Linked DNA regions of Homo sapiens: regions 2 and 3 are each linked to region 1. Evidence: fine-mapped expression QTL. A gene starts in region 1. Each other region holds a variant in brackets. All regions are shown on one strand. Distances are between the middles of the regions. Region 1 holds the start of SMURF2 (SMAD specific E3 ubiquitin protein ligase 2). Region 2 overlaps SMURF2 (SMAD specific E3 ubiquitin protein ligase 2). Region 3 has its middle 32 kb from the start of SMURF2.

Region 1 (8,184 bases):
GCTTTGAAATTAATAACATGAGAAGCAGCATACAAAAACATTAAATGTATAAAAAGGTCTGAAACAAATGTTCTGGAGGAGTAATCTTATTCTGCTTCTCCATACCTAAGAATTTAAAATATTAGAAATTACACTAAACTGCTTTTTCCAGCCTTTGGTTTTCAGAAACAATAATGGTATAAAAAATTATCCCAAAGTTTTTACTGTAAAGAATATTTTTCTATCCAAACCATTGAAAGAAAAGCCTGTATCAGATATAAGTATAATGATATAGACATTATACATTTTGTAATCAATGTTATAGAAACAGTAGTTGAAGTTGATAGTGTTACCATACAGCCCATTTCAATGATCATATGTTAATGTGTCATAAAGAACAGAAGTAGCTTGATGGATGAAATCAGATTCTAACCCCCAACTGCCTGAGGAATCTAAAATTTGGGATCAAATTATTAAATTAGCCCCACCTTCTTAGCATTGACAAATACCAAACAGTTCACTGATTGTGGTTTTAAGAATAATATGTGGAAAGGTTTAATATCAATTGTGGGCAGAGATCTCATGGCTTAAATATTTCCTCTTCTTCAGAGAGAGTGTGTATGAGTGTGTGAGTGTGTGTGTGTGAGTGTGTGCATCACCATGTAAGAAATGTTTATACCTTTCAGCAAAGGGGCAATTCCACAATAAAGTTATTATCAAGTAACTAAAGTTTATACAGCATCTTGAAATCAAAGGTACTCTATAAATTTAAAATACTAATATGGTATTAACTTAAAGCAAAGAACAATAATTTTAAAACACCTTATAGCCCAAGTGTATTGTAAACCAAATATAAATTCACTGTGGGATCTGTCTTTTTTTAAGTGATTTTTTTTCCTCTATTAGGCAACCCAGATCTAAATGAACTGTTAAACACTTAGTCTAAAGGTATGCCAAACATTTCTTAAGGTCTTCACAAAGAATCAACTTTTTTTTTTTTTTTTTTTTTAAACAAAATGAGGCCTAGGTTAAATATTTTATTTGGCTTCTCAAGATGGACTGAGAAGTTGGGCACCAGCTCCAGACCAATTCCTGGACGCACATCAAACACAGCCCTGTCATTTATCCAGTCAGTCAAAACAATCTTTTCCATCTAACCCTTTAATGTTTATGTCCTAAAAAGCTGCTAATTGAATCCAGCTCTTGAGATCTATTTGCTAAAATCTATACCATCTAATTTATAAATGATGAACAAAAATGGAAGAAAAAATATGTTAACTTTCCTGGCAAAACAGAAGAGACTCCACTGTAACCAAAGAAGGAAGGACAATGTTTTTAATATTTGTCAAATTTTAAGAGAAAACTATTCAGAGACAAATAGTTGTAAGAAACTCAGAGTACCTCAAACTGTTTTTACTATTAAGAGGACACAGGGTATTTAAAATTCCTCAGAAAAACCTGAAACAAAATCACTATAAATGTAGTTCAATATTCCCCCTTCCCCTAAAATATAAGCATAATCTTTCCTCTTAATAAACTTTAATTATAAATTCTTATAATGTATCATAGGCAGTACGGAAACCACAGATAAACACTTTAAGATCTATTAAGTCATACTAAAAACCTCAACTAACCTTATCTGCAGAAAATCAAAAACCCAATTTTTTCCCTCATTTTCTCTACATAGCCCAGAGGAGGGTAAATGGAAACAGCCTATTTCTGATGCTTTCTGCACACCTGGGATCACATGTTCTTTCCACGATCACTGACTACAGACAGCAACAGCAACAGATAAACTCTAAAGCAACAAAGATCCCCTATAAAGGTTTCCACTGACTCCTCCCAATGTAAGGACACTGAATGAGGGGGGAGGGGGTGGAATACAAGTATCCTCCAATCCAGGTTTTCCATTAAGAATCACTCAGTTAATGATTCCCTGCAATTTTCCCTAGGGAAAGGAAAACTGCCATGAAAGTAATATATTATTTAAATTGCAGCCAACATACATTCAAGCTAAATTCTCAAATACCAAATTCACTGCAAGTTTTCATCCAGCAAGTTCAGCCAGTGGACTGGGATGTGACACACAGGCATTTAACTACAAAATTAGTCCAAATAAATCTCAAAGTCTAGTGTGGGCAAACATAATTACAGTTTATCCGTACACGTGCACGCACACACAAATCCTCTACGGAAAATTATCTTTCTCACCACTCACCCGAATACAAACGTGGACAATTTATCAGGGGTAAATGGTGAAGGTAGGATAACGCCGTGATTCCAATTCCTTTACAAACCAAATAAAAGTTCTCCTAAAACGGGGGTGGCATGTCCATGTAAGAATACCAAAAATGGCACTGTAAGCAAAACGTACCTGTAATGTTAAAGATTTCATGCACCTGGAATCATAAACACTTTGTAAGTGTAGTCTTCTATCTGGCAACCCCTCCGGACATTCTTTTCCATTTCGAAAAAGGAATGGGGAGGGTGGGGAGAGTAACAGAAAGTTTGCTCGAAAGTTTGTATGAGCACATACTTAGCAATGCACCCCCCCCAAAAAAGTGTGTTTTTAAAGCAGGTCTGGCGTTAGAAGTTAGACACAAGTTCTGCGGCCTAAAAGGAACAACCCCAAACATGCCACCCTACAATCAGACACTTCCAAAACACAGTGTACAATGAGCCCAAGCCGTCGGATCAGACAGGCACACCGGAAAAGTCAACCTGTCTCCTCACCTCAGAGACATGAGTTTAAGGTGTGTGGCCCGGGCAGCGGTGGCCGGCGGCGGGGAGTAAAGGTTTTTCATGCGGGCATAACTGGGTGTGTGCAAGGTAACAACCCGGGAACACACACGCACACCCTCCCGTTAAGCGCTCCATCTTTAAGGAGTGTTTACTGCGCGCAGTCAGCAACCGGATTCAATAATCCTCGCCACGGGAGCTCTTCATCCCCTTCACGATCTCACCTGGGCGGTAGCCCAGGGGCTGTTCCCCGAGCCCCGGGAGGCAGCGTCTGGCTCCTTGACCAAGACTTTCCGACCTGAAATCCGCCTGCGATGCGAACCGGTGTATTCTCCCCTCCACAAAACACCACCCCCCGCCCCGAGTCATCCTCGGCTTTTTAAACAATGTCCAAACCAGAGCAAGTGGTTTTCCAATTACTCTCCCTGAACTAGGCCTTCCCATTCCTCCGACCCCCAACTCATCATTGATCGCGACCCTGGCCCTTCCCAAGGCCACAGGCACCCCCCGCCAGCTCGCCCACCCCGCGGCTGCCCAGCCCGGCCCGCCGCCCCCCCTCACCTGTCAGGCGCAGCTTGACGGGCCCGTTCCTCCGGCCTCCGGGGTTAGACATGTCCCCGGCGGCGGGGGCGGCGGGGGCGGCGGGCGGCACGGGGGCGACGGCGAGGCGCGGCGGAGTCACCACAGCGGCCGGGGCTGGGGCCCGAGCAGCCGGCGCCTCGGCCGCCACGGCCGGAGGGTCCCGGATGTGCCGAGAGTCGTCGCCATGAGCCGCGGAGGGAGCGGGACGCCGAGCTCCCCCCTCCTCCCACTTCTCCTTCCTCGGCCCGGGCCGCACAACAAAGCGGCAGCCGCGGCCGCCCGCGCCGCCTCCGCCCGCGCCCCCGCCGCCTCCTCGCGGCCGCCGAGGCCTTTCCCTCCTCTCGTCTCGGCGAGGCCCAGTAGCCGACGGGGCTGGTCGGCTGAAGCGGGCGGTGCTCGGGGGCGCCGGAGCAGAACTCTGGGCTCGGCCGCTTCCTCCTCCACCCGCCCTCTTGTCTGAGGGACCCGGGACCTGGGGCCGCCGCCGCCACTCGTCGGCTCCGGGGGGCGGGGAGGAGACGGGAGGCGGGGCCGGCGGGGCGGGGCGGGGCCGGGGCGGGGCCGGCGGGCGCGCGCAGGGTGCCCTGGCGGGCACCGGCAGTCAGGGAGGGTGTGAGCTGCCGCCGAGGGTCCCACGCGGAACGCTGGGAGGGAGCAGGCAGGGAGCAAAGCGGCGGCGGGCGCGGCAGCTCTGTGGCACCTGGAGGGGTTTACTGTCCGGGCCACTTAAGGGAGAACTTTTGTCCAAGCAGGGCCAACTGCATTTTATTAGACGCCCACTGCGTGCAGGGCGCTCCGAGAGGCTGGGGCGAGGAAGGTTAGAACCGAGTCCGCTGCCTGCCGGGAACTTGGCGTCTTTCGGGCGAGGGAAGAGAAAGCATTCCCACGCCGATGGTTCCAGCAAAACCCCAGGAATGCTCTGCTCCTGGTCTTGTAGTTGACACCTCCATCCGGGACTCACCTGGTGGAGGAGATCAGGTTACCTGCCGACTCCCGCTCTTTTCAGGTGCAGCCAAGGATGGGGAGATGATACGTCTTAAAGGATTAACAAGATAAACCTTGGAGAGTAATGTATGAAGAGTTGTTCATACGCTACTGTATTTCGTTATCTCAGGAGGAGAAAGAGAAAAGTTTTTAAAAAATGTGTACCTTATCCTTTGACATTGTAACTGTACTGCTAGAAATTTATTTTTTATTTTTTTGTTTTTAGACAGGGTCTCCCTCTGTCGCCCAGGCTGGAGTGCAGTGGTGCGAACACGGCTCACTGCAGTCTCAACTTCCGGGGCTCAGGTGATCCTCCCACCTGAGCCTCTGGAGTAGCTGAGACCACAGTGTGCACCACTACGCCCCACTAATTTTTGTATTTTTAGTAGAGACATGTTTAGTAGAGACGTTTAGGTTTTCCCATGTTGCCCAGGCTGGTCACGAACTCCTGACCTCAAGCGATCAGCCCGCCTCGGCCTCCCAAAGTGCTGGGATTACAGACCTGAGCCACCGCACCGGCCCTATTCTTGACAAATAATCGTACAGAAGATGTTCTTTGCTATATTCCATTAATAACAAAAGGGGAATGAGGGAATAGCATAATAGTCCAGGAACCGCATGGTTTTTTATGCAGCCATGTAACTATTTTTATGAAGATCATATAATATGGAAGAATGTATATGTAATGCAAAGTTTAAAAACAGAATAGAAGTTGTATGCATATACATGCGAAAGTATCTAGCACAATGTAAACTACTAAGGACAATAGCGTGGGGGATTTTTTATGTGATTCGTTAGTTTTGCTTTAGGCTATTATAACATTAATGCAATTTTAAATGTTTTGGATTAATATATTTTAATCCTTATTCCATGCCAGTCATTTCTTTTAATACATCAGTGAACTCACTTCTCCAGATAGTTACCTGCGAGAACATTTCATCAGTTTGGATACAGCCCTACAATTAAAAGTAATCCAAAAAAGTATATGAAGTTCTAGACATCACACTAAAAATACCACAGATAGGCCGGGCACAGTGGCTCACGCCTGTAATTCCAACACTTTGGGAGGCCGAGGTGGGCGGATCATTTGAGGTCAGGAGTTTGAGACCAGCCTGGCCAACATGGTGAAACCCCGTCTGTACTAAAAAAAAATACAAAAAAATTAGCCGGGCCTGGTGGCGCATGCCTGTGGTCCCAGCAATTAGGGAGGCTGAGGCAAGAGAATCGCTTGAACACGGGAGGTTGCAGTGAGCCGAGATCACGCCACTGCACTTCAGCCTGGGTGACAGAGCGAGACTCCATATCAAAAATAAATACATAAATAAATAAAAATTAAAATACCAGAGATAGTGCCAGCAATTCATTCAACAAATATTAAGTGGCCATTTTGTGCAAAGCAATGAACAAGGTCCTTTAGAAATGCTTCCTTGTACTACAAATATATAGAAATCAATGTGAACAATAGCTGCTACCACAATTTAAGAGGGCAGACAGTGGCAAAAAACTTAGCAAACTAATGTACACATACACATTTGCCTTATTTTTACAGCACGCTTTGTTCCCAACCACCCAACTAACATAATTTGTAGCCTTGTATTAGGTAATAGAAGTTAGGATTTCAGAACGTCATGGGAGACCTGGGGGAGACTGCTTGTTTTGAAGTTGAAAGCAGTAAATTAAAAAATGTAAGTGACAGCATAGAAAAATGTATATAGGGTTAACGTGCAGAGGTTTGTATTTAGGCTTTCTTGTAAGGTTAAATCCTGTTGTTTAAAACAAATATTCAGATAAGAATAACACTAAAACCATTCAAGGGCTGGGCATGGTGACTCATGCCTGTAATCCTAGCACTTTGGGAGGCCGAGGCAGAGGAGTCACTTGAGCCCAGGAGTTTGAAACCAGCCTGGGCAACATGGCAAAACCCCGTATCTACAAAACATTAGCCAGGAGTGGTGGCCTGCACCTATAGGCCCAGCTACTCAGGAGGCTGAGATAGGATCACCTGAGCCTGTGGAGGTCAAGGTTGCAGTGAGCCGTGATCACACCACTGCATTCCAGTGCCACTGCATTCCATCCTGGGCAGCATACTGAGACTATCACAAAAATAAAAAGAAAATCAATGTACTGGTAATGATTTTTTTAAGCAGGTACATGGATGTTCATTTTATTGTTTTCCTTGCCATCTTAAATATTGACATTGACTGTAAACATTTATTTAAAAGTAACTAAATGTTTAAAATGAAGTAAAATAAATGAAAACATAGAACAGGGGCAGAGCGTGGTGGCTAACACCTGTAATCCCCACACTTCGGGAGACCAAGGTGGGAGGATCACTGGAGCCCAGGAGGTTGAGGCTGCAGTGAGCCATGATTATGCCATTGCACTCCAGCCTGGGCAACAGAGTAAGACCCTACCTCAAAAAACAAATGCACTCAAAAACAGAATACTCATAATAGGAAAGTCATTTTGAAGGCCTCTCTTAAGTGAGTGGCCTCATCTAGTCCAGGCTCAGATTTCAGAGACGATTGGGTTAGAAAGTTTAAAAAAACAAAAAAGTTTATGTGTTTCTCTTCCCTTGGGGATATGTTTATGTCCCCAAAGGGGGATATATATACATTATAATGACAACATGTAGGGAATTACCAAATTAATAGCCGGAACTTGGGAAAGATAAGACGGAAAATTAAGGGATGGGAATCTTAGGTAAAATCAATTATATACATTCAGGTGTAAAAGTCTTTGAGGAAAGGAAAATAGCATTGGACATGAAAACAGAACCATTCTTTTTTTTTTTTTAGACGGAGTCTCACTCTGTTGCCCAGGCTGGAGTGCAGTGGTGCAATCTCGGCTCACTGCAACCTCCACCTCCTGGGTTCAAGTGATTCTCCTGCCGCAGCCTCCTGAGTAGCTGGGATTACAGGCACCCACCACCACACCTGGCTAATTTTTGTATTTTTTTTTTTTTTTTTAGTAGAGACGGGGGTTTCCCCATGCTGGTCAGGCTGGTCTCGAACTCCTGACCTTGTGATCCACCCTCCTCGGCCTCCCAAAGTGCTGGGATTACAGGCGTGAGCCACTGTGCCCAGCAGGACCATTCTTTACATATCAAAATATTACTATGAGATTCATTCAGCCACCATTTTTATTTTATTTTATTTTATTTTATTTTATTTTATTTTTTGAGTTGGAGTCTCACTCTGTCACCCAGGCTGGAGTGCAGTGGTGCGACCTTGGCTCATTGCAACCTCTGCCTTCCAAGTTCACGTGATTCTCCTGCCTCAGCCTCCGGAGTAGCTGGGATTATAGGCACCTGCCACCACCCCCAGCTAATGTTTGTATTTTTAGTAGAGGTGGGGTTTCACCATGTTGGCCAGGCTGGTCTCAAACTCTTGACCTCAGGTGATCCGCCTGCCTAGGTGTCCCAAAGTGCTAGGATAACAGGCGTGAGCCACCGCGCCCGGCCCTATTCTTGAAAAATAAGTAATAGTACAGAAGATGTTCTTTGCTAAATTCCATTAATAACAAAAAAGAAATGAGGGAACAGCATAATGATCCGTAAACTGCATGGTCTTTTGGGGTTTTGTTGTTGTTGTTGTTGTTGTTGTTTGTTTTTTGAGACGGAGTCTCCCTCTGTCGCCAGGCTGGAGTGCAGTGGCGCCATCTCGGCTCACTGCAACCTCCGCCTCCCAGGTTCAAGCAATTCTCCTACCTCAGCCTCCGAGTAGCTGGGACTACAGGCGCGCGCCACAATGCCCAGCTAATTTTTTGTGTTTTTAGTAGAGACAGGGTTTCACCATGTTGGCCAAGATGGTCTCAATCTCTTGATTTCATGATCCGCCCACCTCGGCCTCCCAAAGTGCTAGGATTACAGGCGTGAGCCCCTGCGCCCGGCCAACCGCA
Region 2 (8,184 bases), 26 kb before region 1:
CGCTTAAGAGAAGGGCTGTGAGCCCTTGGACAAATGACTTAACCTCTCTGAGATCAGTGTTTTCTGATGACAATATGATAGTATTTGTACTCGCCTACTTCAGAGTATTATTTTGAGGATTAAGTGAGATGACTTAGGTAAAGAGTTTCTTAAAACTTTGCAAATAGGGATACACAGTATTTATTGTTATAACAGAAGGTAGAGGCTGCATGTGGTGGCTCAAGTCTGTAATCTCAGCACTTTGGGAGGCCAAGGCAGGGAGATAGCTTGAGCCCAGAAGTTCGAGGCCAGCCTGGGCAACCTGAGGAGACCCTGTCTCTATAAAAACACAAAAATTAGCCAGGCGTGGTGGCACGCACCTATAGTCCCAGCTACTTGGGAGGCTGAAGTGGGAGGATGGCTTGAGCCCAGGAGGCCGAGGCTGCAGTGAGCCATGATCATATCACTGTACTCCATCCTGGGTGACAAAGCAAGACCCTGTTTCAAAAACAAAACAAAACAAAAAAACAGATCTCTACCTATAGATTCTTCTATATCCAGGTACTGGGAGTCAATCAGGGTCCCTCAAAATCAAATAGAGGAAAGAACAACTTCAAAGAGAAAGCAGAGTATAAAAACAGAGAAAGAACACTCCCTTTCCACTTAAACCCTCCATACCCACACCGGTATCATTCCATCCCAGGTGAAAATGTTTATTAGCTGGGTAAAAATAAATACATAAATCCCTTTACCATATATTTACAATACAATATAGTAAGAATAACCATTAAATATGTCATATTCACTTTGTTGCAAGTTTAAATTCCAGGATTCAACTAGCATCATTGGTTTGTTTTTCACATAACATGAATTATCTTACAACTTCAGTTGATTAGAGGCATTAGAGAATCAGTAATAATTCTGGTCCCTACAATTCTGAGCCTTCAATAATATGCTGAAAACACCAAACAACTTTCAATTCTAAACTTTAGAGGTAACTTATAAACACAGGCAACTACCAAGAGATTAGCCCCCCACCCCCCAAAAAAATGTTGTGAAGAGTTTTATACTCTCCATACAAAGTTACTGTAAAAACATAAAATTTATATAGGCTGAGTGTGGTGGCTCATGCCTGTCATCCCAACACTTTAGGAGGCCGAGGTGGGCAGATCACCTGAGGTCAGGAGCTTGAGACCAGCATGGCCAACATGGCGAAACTGTCTCTACTAAAATACAAAAATTAGCCAGGTGTGGTGGTGCGCGCCTGTAATCCCAGCTACTTGGGAGGCTGAGGCACAAAAATAGCTTGAACCCAGAAGCTGGAGGTTGCAGTGAGCCGAGATCCCACCACTGCACTCCAGCCTGGGCGACAGTGAGACTGTTTCAAAACAAAAAACAAAAACAAAAAGAGAATAACTGGCTGCTAGCATTCTTGGAGCTAAGTAATACAAGGGGGCTGGGAGTTTCACCATTTAAAGATGTGGCAAATCCCCTCATTTTCAGCTGGGCATTTCTTTACCACCTTCCACAGCACCAGGTATTCCTGGGTCTATAGGCAGTCTGGCTTTCTCCACAAGATAAATCTTTGACTTTTTTGTGAGGTTGGGTAAGAACACTCATCTGCTTGCCTAGGATGAGGCATGTATAGAACTTTCCACTGACTTTAAACCATTTCCTGCTTTCAGCTTCACATCTTGCTTGCACCCTCAGAGATACCTGGCACCTTCAATTCCTGAGTCTTCCTAGAGATAGGTGATATGAACTGGCTAGAATCATGCAAGGAATTGGTATCCGCCTCTGTAGATATTTTATATTCCACTTTCTCAGCTAATTAATCTACTCCAACCACCTTCCATTTCCCTGAAGTTTTTTTATACCACTTATTTACTGTCTCCTGTTCTTTCTGCTCTTGCAGATTTATGCTGTTTTCATTCTCTTACTCACTGTGAATGGGGCTTGGGGACAGAGCAGAAATAAACATATTTGTTCAATTCAAGCTTAAAAAGAAGACACAGTCCTTGAATGATTTTTATCTGATGCTAATACATATCCTGGGTGCATTCAGATTTCATGAAGCCTGGAGTTTACAGAGTTTGGAGGCTCCATTTTAAGAGCACAGAATTGGGTATTGACAGCCAATATTCAATTTAGAATGAGAAAATAAATCATAAATTTTAACAAACTGGCAAAAGCCACAAACATCATAACCTAATAATAATAATAATAATATTTGTTATGACAAGTTTTTTTCCCATTTGTTTCCAGATAAAAGTCACATAAGGCCAGGCATGGTGGCTCACACCTGTAATCTCAGCACTTTGGGAGGCCAGGGTGAGTGGATCGCTTGAGGCCAGAAGTTCATGACCAGCCTGGCCAACATGGTGAAATTCCATCTCTATTAAAAATACAAAAATTAGCTGGGCGTGGTGGTGCACAGCTGTAATCCCAGGTACTTGGGAGGCTGAGGCACGAGAATTGCTTGAACCAGGGAGGTGGAGGTTGCGGTGAGCCGAGATCACACCACTGCACTCTGGCCTGGGCGACAGAGCGAGACTAGGTCTCAAAATAAATAAATAAATAATAAAAGTCACATAACATGAAAATCACCAAGTTAAACTGTATAATTCAATAATTTTTAGCATAGTCACAGTGCTGTACAACCATCACCAATATCTAATTCCAGAACATTTCCATCACCCCAAAACAACCCCCATACTACCTGTTAGCAGTCACTCCCCATCTTCCCTCCCCCATCCCCTAGCAACCTGAAAATCTACCTTCTGTCTATGGATTTGCCAAGTGGAATTAAACAATATGGCTTTTTGTGTCTGGCTTCTTTCAATCAACCTAATTTTTTGAGCTCATCCATACTATAGCATACATCATCAGCACTTTATTCCCTTTTATGGCTGAATAATATTCCATTGTATAGATATGCCATATTTTGTTTATCCATTCAGTTGACAGACATCTGAGTTGTTTCCACCCAACTATTTTGGCTGTTATGAATAATGCTACTATGCACAAGATTTTGTGTGAACATATGTTTTCAGTTCTCTTATGTATGTACCTAGGAATGGAATTGCTGAGTCATGTAGTAACTATGTTTAATTTTTCTGAAAAACTGCCACAAACTGTTTAGCAGAGTGGTTGAACTACTTTACATTCCCACCAACAATGTATGAGGGTTCCAATTTCTCCACATCTTTGCTAACATTTGTTATTTTCCCATTATTATAGCCCTTCTAGTGGTCGTGAAGTAGTATCCCATTGTGGTTTTCATTTTCATTTCCCTAATGATTCATGATATTGGGCATCTTTTCATGTGCTTTTTGGCCACTGATATATCTTCTCTGGAGAACTGTCTATTCAAACCCTTTGCCCTTTTTTTTGAAATGTGGTCTCACTATGCTGCCCAGGCTGTTCTCAGGGGATCCTCCCACCTCAGCCTCTCAAGTAGCTGAGACTATAGGCATGTGCCAACACATCTGGCTAGCTGCCCATTTTTTAACTGGATTGTTTGTCCTTTTATTGTTGAGTTTTAAGAGTTCCTTAAGGCCGGGTGC[G/A]GTGGCTCACACCTGTAATCCCAGCACTTTGGGAGGCTGAGGTTGGTGGATCACCTGAGATCAGGAGTTCAAGACCAGCCTGGCCAACATGGCAAAACTCCATCTCTACTAAAAATATAAACATTAGCTGGACGTGGTGGCACACACCTGTAATCCCGGCTACGCGGGAGGCTGAGGCAGGAGAATCGCTTGAACCCAGGAGGTGGAGGTTGAGTGAGACGAGATTGCATGCCACTGCACTCAGCCTGGACATCAGGGCCAGACTCTGCCTCAAAAAAAAAAAAAAAAAAAAAAAAAAATTAGCTGGGCATGGTGGTGTGCACCTGTAGTCCCAGCTACTCAGGAGGCTGAGGCAGAAGAATCACTTGAACCCAGGAGGTGGAGGTTGCAGTGAGCTAAGATCATGCTGCTGCACTCCTGCCTAGGCGACAGAGCAAGACTCCGCCTCAAAAAAAGAAAAAAAAAAAAAGAGTTCTTTATATATTCTGTATACTAGACCCTTATCAGGTATAATTTATAAATATTTTCTCTCATTCTATGAGTTATCTTTTAGCTTTCTTATTAGTGTCCTTTTGGACACAAACGTTTTTAATTTTGATAGAGTCTAGGCTGGGTGCAGTGGCTAATACCTGTAATCCTGTCACTTTGGCAGGCCGAGACAAGAGGATCTCTTGAGCCCAGGAGTTCGAGACCAGTCTGGGCAACAGAGTGAGACCTCATCTTTACAAAAATAAATAAATAAGATTTTTGTTTAAATTGACAGAATCCAATCCAAAGTCTTGTGTTTCTATCTAAGAGATTTTTTTTTTTTTTTGAGACACAGTCTTGCTCTGTCACCCAGGCTGGAGTGCAGTGGCACGGTCTCGGCTCACTACAATCTCCGCCTCCCAGGTTCAAGCGATTCTCTTGCCTCAGCCTCCCAAGTAAGTGAGATTACAGGTGCCTGCCACCATTCCTGGCTAATTTTTGTATTTTTAGTAGAGACGGGGTTTCATCATGTTGGCCAGACTGGTCCCGAACTCCTGGCCTCAAACAACCACTCGTCTCGACCTCCCAAAGTGCCAGGATTACAGGTGTGAGCCACCACACCCAGCCATCCATCTAAGAGTCTTATGGCTTGCATTGTTACATTTAGTCTTTAATCCACTTTGAGTTAATTTTTATATATGGCATGAGGTAGAGGTTCAACTTCATTCTTTTGCATGTGGAAATCCAGTTGGTCCAACACATTATTATTATTATTATTTTCTTGAGACGGAGTCTCATTCTGTTGCCCAGGCTGGAGTGTAATAGTGCGATCTTGGCTCACTGTAACTGCTGCCTCCCAGGTTCAGGCGATTCTCCCACCTCTGCCTCCCCAGTAGCTGAGACTACAGTCGTGTGCCACCATGCCTGGCTAATTTTTGTATTTTTAGTAGAGACAGGGTTTCACCATGTGGACCGTGCTGGTCTCAAACTACTGACTTCAAATGATCCACCCACCTTGGCCTTCCAAAGTGCTGGGATTACAGGTGTGAGCCACAGAACCCGGTCCCAATGCCATTTTTTAAAAAGACTAATCTTTCCCCATTGAATGGTTTTGGCGCCCTAGTCAAAAAAAAAAAAAAAAAAAATCAACTGACCACAAATGTATAATTTTCTTTCTGGACTTTCTATTCTATTCCATTGATCTATATCTCAATCCTTACACCAGTACCACACTTTCCCATGAGTTTTTTTTTTTTCCTTTTTCTTTTTTTTTTTTTTTTTTTTGACAGAGTCTCACTCTGTTGCCCAGGCTGGAGTGCAGTGGCACGATCTTGGCGGCTCACTGCAACCTCCACCTCCTGGGTTCAAGTGATTCTCCTACCTCAGCCTCCCAAGTAGCTAGGATTACAGGCATGTGCCACCAAGCCCGACTAATTTTTGTATTTCTAATAGAGATGGGGTTTCACCATGGTGGCCAGGCTGGTCTTGAACTCCTGACCTCAAGTGATCCACTCACCTCAGTTTCTCAAAGTGCTGGGATTACAGGCATGAGCCACTGCGCCTGACCAATTTTTGTATTTTTATTAGAGACAGTGTTTCGTCATGTTGGGCAGGCTGGTCTCAAACTCCTGACCTCAAGTGATCTGCCTGCCTCAGCCTCCCAAAGTGCTGGGATTACAGGCGTAAGCCACCACGCTCAGCCTGTTGTTATTGATGGCTTAGAAAAGTTTTCTTTTAGCACAGGAACATCATCAATAAATAATGTTATATCAACTTTTAGGACTATGGTCAAACCTGGGAAAATTCTTAACAAGTCTCTTTCATTAAAGCTACAAAATCTTAAAGAATTTTCCCCAGACTGGCTTTTGACATCAAACCTTGTTTTTCCTCTACTAACCACACACTTTGGGTGCCAGATGCCATAGGACACATTCATATTGCTAGACAACCTCTAGCTATGCACGTTTATGTCACAATGCCCCATGAGTTAGCACAACAGACATAGAGTATTCCTAGAAACCATTCCCATACTGGGATGGCTAGTAATACCTTGACTATACACAAAGAGGCTATGAACCATGTAAACATATCCTGCTAAAATCCAACTAAATATCTCTCCAAGTCAATTTCCCCATAGCCAGACCCCAAAAGTGCCCACAGCCATTCCAATGCCACCCAACATAAGGAAGAGTGTAACAAAGGGGAAGTCAGGTAAAAAGACGGCAATTTTAGCTGACTGTGGTTTAGATAACTTACATTTGCAAATTCTTCAAAGATATGTGACCACATACTGGCAATGTTCTGTTTCTTGATCTGGATGCTAGTTATATATGTGTGTTCAGTTTGTGAAAAATCTTAAACTACACACTTATAATATTTATGAATTTTCTCATTCATATATTATATACCAATAAAACTTTTTAAAAATTAACCAAGTGAACACATTGCTAGGGTCCCTCCCAGACCCTCAGATTGGGTCTTGAAAATTAAGCTTCAGGCTGGGCGTGGTGAGTCACACCTGTAATCCCAGCACTTTGGGAGGCTGAGGTGAGTGGATCACTTGAGGTCAGGAGTTCCAGACCGGCCTGACCAACATGGGAAAACCCTGTCTCTACTAAAAATACAAAAATTAGCCAAGCCTGGTGGTGCACATCTGTAATCCCAGCTACTTGGGAGGCTGAGGCAGGAGAATCACTTGAACCCGGGAGGCGGAGGTTGCAGTAAATTGAGATCGCACCACTGCACTCCAGTCTGGGCGACAGAGCGAGACTCTGACTCAAAAAAAAAAGAAAATTAAGGTTCATTAGTTTCAAAGAGATAATAGCAACTGGATATCATAAGATGTGGTGTCTAATACCAGCTATACCATGAATTACCCATGGGACTTGGAGAAGACACATATGCCTCCCTAAGCAATTTTCTCACCTAAAATGGGGAAGTTTAAGTCAGACTATAAACTCTAAGACTTCTTTCCAGTAGTCACTCAAGAAATACTTCCCAAGTACCCGTTACTGTTTGGCATCACATTAGGTAAATGAAACACACACACAATCCCTGCCCTGTGGGTGCTCCCCATCTAATAGGGATTAAAAAACAATGAGCAGCATTAGGTAAAAACTAATCGGAATAAATATGGATTTTAGTTAATAAAAGTGTACCAATATTGGTTCATTAATTATAACAAATATACCATACTAATGTAAGATTAGTTTAGTTAATAGGGAAAACTGGTTATGGAAATACAGGAATTCTATACTATCTTCAGATTTACAGATCTTTAGATTTACAGATTTTTCTTATCTTTAGACTTACAGGTTTTTCTATACATCTAAAAGTATTCTAAAATCAAAAGTTTATTTTTAAAAAGACAGTAAACAGGTAAATAAATGAATATTAAAAGAAATTGTGTTCAGTTCTCAGAAGTTAACAGGATATTATGGAGGTAGCATAATGAGAGTAGAGACTACTTTAGACAGACTACTTAGGAACTCTTTGAGATAATACAACTGACACAGAAAAATAAGAAGAAACAAGAGAAAGAAAATTCCTTCAAAAGAAAGAATATATACAAAGACTCTGAGGTGGAAGAGATTGGCCTTTTCAAGAAATTAAAAGAAAATCCACGTGACTAAAGCATAATGAGCAAAGGAAAGCCCAGTCAACAGGGGCAGATTATATAAGGTCTTGGATAAATAGTGTCTATTTCATTCAAAGTATAATGGAAAGACACTGGAGGGTTAAAGCAAGGAAGTAAAATCATCCAATTTACTTTTTTCTTTTTTAATTCATGAAGCTATACTGTGGAGAATGGATTATAGACGGGTTAAAGAAAAACAATGAGGCCGGGCACAGTGGCTCACACCTATAATCCCAGCACTTTGGGAGGCCAAGGCAGGCAGATCACGAGGTCAGGAGACCAAGACCATCCTGGCCAACATGGTGAAACCCCGTCTGTACTAAAAATACAAAAATTAGCTGGGCATGGTGGCGGGTGCCTGTGATCCCAGCTACTCAGAAGGCTGAGGCAGGAGAATCATCTGAACCAGGGAGTCGGAGATTGCAGTAAGCCGAGATCATGCCACAGCACTCCAGCTTGGCAACAGAGTGAGACTCCATCTCAAAAAAAAAAAAAGAAAAAAGAAAAAAAAGAAAAACAATGCAGACCCTATAG
Region 3 (8,184 bases), 32 kb after region 1:
CTCTTGACCTCAGGTGATCTGCCCGCCTCAGCCTCCCAAAGTGCTGAGATCACTGGCGTGAGCCACCACTTCTGGCCAGTGCCATATTTTCTACTATCCTGGTAAAGTAAATATTTGTACCAAACCCCACCAAACTTGAAATGAATGGAATGTTCTTAATTTTCAAGGTGCTATCTTTAAAGGTCTTCTCCAGAATGACCTGTGATATCTTTATAGGGGCCAGGGAGTTTCCCCTCGATATCAGAATTTCTTTACTTACAAGATTATAATCTCATAAGATTATAATCTTACAATTACTTACAAGATTCTATAATTACTTACAAGATGATAATCTTACAAGATTCCATAATTACTTGCAAGATTATAATCTTATAATTACTTACAAGATTCTATAATTACTTACAAGATTATCATCTTGTAAGTAAAGAAATTCTGATATTGAGGGGAAACCCCCTGGCCCCTATAAAGATATCACAGGTCATTCTGGAGAAGATCTTTAAAGATAGCACCTTGAAAATTAAGAACATTCCATTCATTTCAAGTTTGGTGGGGTTTAACACAAATATTTACTTTACCAGGATAGTAGAAAATGTGGCGCTGGCCGGGCACAGTGGTGCACTCCTGTGATCTCTGCACTTTGGGAGGCCGAGGTGGGCAGATCACGAGGTCAGGAGCTCAAGACCAGCCTGGCCAAGATGGTGAAACACTGTCTTTACTAAAAATACAAAAATTAGCCGGGCGTGGTGGTGGGCACCCGTAATTCCAGCTACTCAGGAGGCTGAGGCAGAGACTTGCTTGAACCCAGGAGGTGGAGGTTGCAGTAAGCTGAGATCTTGGTCACTGCATTCCAGCCTGGGCGACAGAGTGAGACTCTGTCTCAAAACAAAAACAAAAACAAAAACAAAAACAAAAACACTGTGGTCTAATCTATATGTCTTTTTTCTGAATTCATTTGAACTCATTCACTGCTATCACTAACAGTTTAAAGGCTGGGCGTGGTGGCTCATGCCTGTAATCCCAGCACTTTGGGAGGCCAAGGCAACATGGTGAAATCCTATCTCTACGAAAAATATAGAAAATTAGCCGAGTGTGGTGGTGCACACCTGTGGTCCCAGCTACTCCAGGAGGTGGAGGTGGGAGATCACTAGAGCTCAGGAAGTGAAGCCTGCAGTGAGCTGAAATCGCGCCACCAGGAGTAAGACCCTATCTCAAAAAATCAAAACAAAATAAAACACAGTTTAAATACTGTATGTAGGCATTTACATTTTGGAGTTAATTTCTTTTCTTTCTTTCTTTTTTTTTTTTTTGATTCAGAGTTTTGCTCGGTCGCCTGGGCTGAAGTATCGCCATTTTGGCTCACTGAAACCTCTGCCTCCCGGGTTCAAGCAATTCTCCTGCCTCAGCCTCCTGAGTAGCTGCAATTACAGGCATGCACCACCATGCCAGGCTAATTTTTGTATTTTTAGTAGATATGGGGTTTTATCATGTTGGCCAGGCTGGTCTCGAACTCCTGACCTCAGGTGATCCACCCGCCTCGGCCTCCCAAAGTGCTGGGATTACAGGCATGAGCCACTGCGCCTGGCCTTTGGAGTTAATTTCTAAGAAAAGGCAGTGGGCACAAGTAAGTTGTAGTTCATCTTATGAACTCATTCAGAAATTTACAGCCTTTTTTAAAAAACAGAGAGTGGGTTCTTGCTCTATTGCCAAGGCTGGGGTGCAATTGCATAATCATAGCTCACTGCAGCCTCGATCTCCTGGGTTCAAGCCATACTCCCTGCCCCAGGCTTCCTAGTATCTAGGATTACAGGCATATGCCACCATGCTAATTTATTTATTTATTTATTTTTAGAGGAGAAGACAGAGGGAATCTAGCTGTTACCCAGGCTGGTCTCTAATTCCTAGCCTCAAACGATCCTCCTTCCTCAACCTCCTGAGTAGCTATTATCGGCATGAGCCATTACCCCTGGCTGAAATTTATAGTCTTTATGTATGAATTCATGAACAGCATGAAGCTTGGCCAATAGCATTTCTGAAAGTGGAACTTGGCTCATGTGAATGCTCATAACAAAAGAGAGATTGCCAAAACAAGCAACTTTCTCTAAATAGAGGCGAAATAATAGTCTTACAGAGTAAATCTTCACAATGTAAAAACATAGAGTCAGTTCACTAAATGTTCTCTAAAACATGCTTCCAACATGCTGTTAAGTGGAAAAAAACTTTTATGATATAGTATTACTGTATAAATTCATCTCTTAACAGAAAAATATATTATATATGCAGATTTCAACTTTTTTTTGGAGACAGAGTCTCACTCTGTCGCCCAAGCTAGAGTACAGTGGTGTGATCTCGGCTCCCTGCAACCTCTGTCTCCTAGGTTCAAGCAATTCTCCTACCTCAGCTTCTCCCAAGTACCTGGGATTATAAGCACCCACCACCATGCCCAGCTAATTTTTGTATTTTTAGTAGAGATGGCGTTTCACCATATTTGTCAGGCTGGTCTCCTGACCTCAGGTGATCCACCTGCCTCGGCCTCCCAAAGTGCTGGGATTACAGGCATGAGCCACTGCACCCAACCAATTTAAACATCTTAAAAGAAACACATCAAAATGTAACTAGAGGTTGTTTCTACATAATGGGACCATGGGGATTTCTATTTCTTCTTTGGCATATTTGCATTTTCTACTTTTTTCTATAATGAACATCTATTGTTAAAACAGGTAAGATACTGAATTTTAGCAAGAAAAAATATGCAAATAGAAAAGAAATAAAATAAATATACCAAATGTCAACAGTGGTTACCAGTAGATGATGGCATCATCTGAGATTTTCAACTTTCTTTTTGTTTGTTTGTTTGTTTGTTTGTTTTTTGAGACAGTGTCTCGCTCTGTTGACCAGGCTGGAGTGCAATGGCACAATCTTGGCTCACTGCAACCTCTGCCTCCTGGGTTCAAGTGATTCTCCTGCCTCAGCCTCCTCTAGCTGGGACTACAGGTGTGCACCACCATGCCAGGCTAAGTTTTGTATTTTTAGTAGAGAAAGGTTTTGCCATGTTGGCCAGGTTGGTCTTGAACTCCTGGCCTCAAGTGATCTGCCTGCCTTGGCCTCCCAAAGTGCTGGAATTACAGGGGTGAGCCACCTTGCCCGGCAAATTTTCACATTTAGCTTTGATGTTTTTTGAATTTTCCACAAAAAGTATATATTAGAATTACATTGGTAATATCACATATTATATCACCCCATATTAGATGAATGGGAAGAGGAAGATAAGTGATTACAGAGTTAGAAGGGTCACTTCAATAAACTAAGACTAAAAACTTCTGCGTTATCATCAACTGCTATAGAGTCTTTCTTTTAAAGATGTCTAATTGTCGGCTGAGTGTGGTGGCTCACGCCTGTAATCCTAGCACTTTGGGAGGCTGAGGTGGGTGGATCACGAGGTCAGGAGTTCAAGACCAGCCTGGCCAAGATGGTGAAATCCCGTCTCTACTAAAAATACAAAAATTAGCCGGGTGTGGTGGCGGGTGTGGTGGCGGGCACCTGTAATCCCAGCTACTCGGGAGGCTGAGACAGGAGAATCGCTTGAACCTGGGAGGTGGATGTTGCAGTGAGCCGAGATCGCACCACTGCACTCCAGTCTGGGCGACAGAGCAAGACTCCATCTCAAAAAACAAAACAAAAACCAACCAAACAAACAAAAAATATGTGTAATTGTCAATAGCAGGATCCCTAAATGAAGCAGATAAAGACGTGATTTGCAAGTAGCAATGACACCTTCATACTGGTCCTAATGGTAGAGGGGTTCCCTAACTCAACACTGCCCCGTTCCTGTGGTCAGAGCACCTCTCTCTGATGTCGTCAGGAACAACCCCAGGCCAAATTCAAGTGAGAAAACTGGAGCTTAACAGTGGTTCCTAGGGTTAGTTGGATCCAAAGAATCAATTGCTAAAGTAGAAGTTGAGGGAGGTGTGAGTCAAGAACAGCCTCTGTGGAAATGACTTCAGGCTTTTAGTTGACAATGGGCTCGGTGTGAGTCATTCTAGGGACATGGGCTCTTGGCCAAAGAATTGCACTGAGGATCAAGGACATGATGGTGACCTGCTGCCAGCAGCCCAGCAGCCTACGCCATAAGCAATACTTTCAGTTCTGGGTGCTTTACTGTAAATGGGACAAGGAGGAGAGGAATTAAAGTGCTTAGGGACTTCGAGTCATGTACCGCAAG[C/G]AATGTTTGGAGAAGCTGAGAAAGAAAACTCAGGGGGCGGGGCGCGGTGGCTCACGCCTGTAATCCCAGCACTTTGGGAGGCTTTGGTGGGCAGATTGCTTGAGGCTGGGAGTTTGAGACCACCCTGGCCAACATGGCGAAACCCCATCTCTACTAAAAAATACAAAAATTAGCCAGGATCATGGAGGTGCACGCCTGTAATCCCAGCTACTAGGGAGGCTGAGGCACAAGAATCGCTTGAACCTGGGAGCCAAGATTGCGCCATTGCACTCCCGCCTGGGTGACAGAGCAAGATGCTGTCTCAAAAAAAAAAAAAAGAAAAAGAAAAAAGAAAAAGAAAAGAAAACTCAGGGGACACTAACAGCTAGCTGCCTTAACATACCTGATAAGCTATCAAGTTCAGGTCAATTAAATTTGTTCCATGTGGTTCTACAGGAAGTAGCCAGGACCAGTGTGGTGGGGCTGTAATTGGAATTATACTGAGACAGACCTTGAGATAGGAGAACAGATTTTTGAGTAGTTTGAAATGGCAGAAGATACATTGGTCTTGAACCTGCTCCTCAAAGTGTGGTGCAGAATTGCAGCCTGGCTTCAGAGGAAGCCCATTAGACAAGGACTAGGTCTCAGCCCCCAGCTCAGACCTACTGAATCAGTGCCTGCAGTTTAAAAAGATGCCCAGGGCCAGGCGTAGTGGCTCACACCTGTAATCCCAGCACTTTGGGAGGCTGAGGCAGGCAGATCACTTGAGGTCTGGAGTTTGAGACCAGCCTGGCCAACATGATGAAACCCTATCTCTACTAAAAATACAAAAATTAGCTGGACATGGTGGCAGGTACCTGTAATCCCAGCTACTAGGGAAGCTGGGGCAGGAGAATTGCTTGAACCCGGGAAGGCAGAGGTTGCAGTGTGCTGAGGTCGCATCATTGCACTCCAGCCTGGTCGACAAGAGCAAGACTCTTGTCAAAAAAAAAAAAAAAATTAAATTTAAAAAAGATACTTTAGATCATTTTTTGTGCCTATTCTGCTATGTAGATAAAAAAAATTTTTGAGACATGATCTACTGTGTCATCCAGGCTGGAGTGCAGTGATGCCATCTCGGCTCACTGCAACCTCTGCCTTCCAGGTTCAAGTGATTCTCCTACCTCAGCCTCCCGAGTAGCTGGGATTACAGGGGCCCACGACCACACCTGTCTAGTTTTTGTATTTTTAGTAGAGACAGGGTTTCACCATGTTGGCCAGGCTGGTCTTGAATTCCTGACCTCAAGTGATATACCTGCCTCAGCCTCCCAAAGTGCTGGGATTACAGATGTGAGTCACCACGCCTGGCCTCATGTACAAGTTTTCATACGGAAGAACTCTTCATCTTTTACATTTCTGAAAATATATTAATGTGATGCAACTCTTTGAAAAAGTCACACATAAAATGTCTATTTTTAAAAAAATTTTTAATTTTTATTTTTTTTGAGATGGAGTCTTGCTCTGTCGCTAGGCTGGAGTGCAATGGTGCCATCTTGGCTCACTGCAACCTCCACCTCCTGAGTTCAAGCAATTCTCCTGCCTCAGCCTCCCAAGTAGCTGGGACTACAGGCACGTGCCACCACACCCAGCTAATTTTTCACCATGTTGGCCAGGATGGTCTCCATCTCTTGACCTCGTGTTCCGCCCACCTCAGCCTTCCAAAGTGCTGGGATTACAGGCATGAGCCACCACACCCAGCCTAAAATGTCTATATTTTTAAGTTCCATTATCCCATTTCTCAGAATCTGACTCAAATAAATAACATACACGTAGAAGGTACTAGGTAGGAAGTTTCTAAGCATGATATTATTTAAGCATCACTGTTTTTTCCTTCTTCTCCAGTAAAAGGTACAAAAATAAGGGCCCACCTTCTTAATAACTGAAATATGACTCACGGGACATTTTCCTTTTATCCCAAGAGGCTTCTGCAAAGAGAAAACTGGTCCATCTCCAAAGGGGCCCAACTAGGGGATGGTTGCTGGGTTGGTCTCCCACAGTGTCACAGTTGGGAAGAGACTGTTAGTGACTTGGGCACAGGATGGCACTCCTGCTCATTTCCACACAATGGCAGGTCCCAGGAGTTGCAGCCTCAGTCCCTCCCAGGTGCACCCTGGTGAGTCTCTCCTCCAGGCCCCTATGTCCTTCAGATGACCTCAGTGAGGATCAGCTCAGTCTACCAGAGAGACTCTAATACCATTAAGCCTCATAAGGGCAGATTTTCCCACCCTCTCCCCAACAACTTTTGTGTGGTATGCTCCAAGGATAATGGGTGGTGTAGCCTCACCCTTCCCCAGAACATAGGGTAACCCTTGCCTTGCGTCTACCTAACCACAAAGAACCACTCAAGGGGATCTTCTTGAAGATCAGTACCACCATTGGCAGTCTCTATTTTGAATTTGTAAAACGTTGCATGTTGCTTTCTTATTCCATTTCTGTGCACAGTCAGCTTCTGCAAATTGTTTGGATGCATCATAACTTACTTAAACAATCCCTTAGTAGGTTGTTTCCAGTCTTTTGCTAACCAATCAACAATGCGACAGATATCCTTAATAGGCATCACTGAACATGACAAAATGAATTAAATGCATCTGTAGTATACTTTGAATTTGGGTAGATAACACCAGTTAATTTGGTCTCCATAGAGATTTAGTAACTCACCTAACTCATAGCAGGTGGAGCTGGGATTCAGACTCACGTTCTCTAGGCCAGAGTTCAGCCTCATAACCACCAAGGTAAACTGCCTTTTTGATGTTTTTTGTTTGTTTGTTTTGAGACAGGGTCTCACTCTGTTGCCCAGGCTAGAGTGCAGTGTTGTGATCATACCTCACTGCAGCCTCAAACTCCTGGGCTCAAGCAATCCTCCCACCTCAGCCTCCCAAGTGGTTGGAACTGCAGGCATGCTACCATGCCCCACTAATTTTTTTTTTTTTTTTGTACAGATGAAGGTCTTACTTGTTTCCCAGGCTGGTCTTGAACTCCTGAGCTCAAGTATCCACCCACCTTGGCCTCCCAAAGTGCTGGGATTACAGGTGTGAGCCACTGCACCTGGCCACCTTTTTGAAATTTGCCAGTCTGAGATCTAAAGACTGGTACTTTTCAGTCATTTTAATGTGAATTTCTCTTACTACGAAAGAGTAAACATTGTATCATAGCTTAGTTTGTTTATTTTTCTGTGAATTGTCTATACCTAGTATTTGCCCATTTTTCCATTAAATTATTGGCTTGTTTCCATATCAATTTGTAAGAATTCTTTATATATTAGGGAAACTAGTCCTTTCTGTATTCAGAATTGAAAATACTGTTCCCAGGACGGGTGCGGTGGCTCATGCCTGTAATCCCAGCACTTTGGGAGGCCAAGGCGGGTGGATCACTTGAGGTTAGGAGTTCGAGACCAGCCTGGCCAACATGGTGAAACCCTGTCTCTACTAAAACTAAAAAAATTAGCTGGGCGTGGTGGCATGCACCTGTAATCCTAGCTATTCAGGAGACTGAGGCAGGAGAATCACTTGAACCCGGGAGGTGGGGAGTTGCAGTGAGTCGAGAATGCGCCATTGCACTCCAGCCTAGGCAACAAGAGCGAAACTCCATCTTAAAAAAAAAAAAAAAAGAAATACTGTTCCCAGCTTGTCTTTTGACTTAACTTATAATGGTTACTGCCATGAAGAAAATAGATTTTTATATCCATTTTTTATTTTATGGATTCTGAACTTAGTTTTATAGTTGGACAAAATTTTCATTTATGAAATAATAAAAAAAACTCTCCAATGGATTTTTCAAGTATTTCATAGTTTTTCTTTTTTTTTCACATCTAAATATTGGGTACATTTGGAATTCGTCCCAGTGAAAGATACGTATCCAATATTCCCCCCAGATGGCCACTCAGTTGTCTCCACACTGTTTTTTAAATTACCTATCAGTCCCATTGATTTATACCACCCTTATCATAC

What was found. PIP is the estimated chance that this variant, and not a neighbour inherited with it, causes the effect.
Region 2: its variant is the best candidate, but not a certain one, in a credible set for the expression of SMURF2 in whole blood (TOPMed, PIP 0.82).
Region 3: its variant is the best candidate, but not a certain one, in a credible set for the expression of SMURF2 in whole blood (TOPMed, PIP 0.56).

What each region holds. Positions count from the first base shown.
Region 1 is chr17:64,658,550-64,666,733 of GRCh38, forward strand. SMURF2 (SMAD specific E3 ubiquitin protein ligase 2) reads right to left here and starts at 3,758. Exons shown (of 19, transcript NM_022739.4): 1 at 3,280-3,758. The coding sequence starts at 3,331. RefSeq lists silencers at 3,252-3,451, 3,502-3,901 and an enhancer at 4,052-4,610.
Region 2 is chr17:64,632,786-64,640,969 of GRCh38, forward strand. The region is part of intron 1 of SMURF2 (SMAD specific E3 ubiquitin protein ligase 2); the gene reads right to left. Among named protein-coding and RNA genes, the nearest start is that of SMURF2, 25 kb to the right of the region's middle. The variant G/A (reference allele first, on the strand shown) is at 3,546.
Region 3 is chr17:64,690,376-64,698,559 of GRCh38, forward strand. No RefSeq gene overlaps it. Among named protein-coding and RNA genes, the nearest start is that of SMURF2, 32 kb to the left of the region's middle. The variant C/G (reference allele first, on the strand shown) is at 4,220.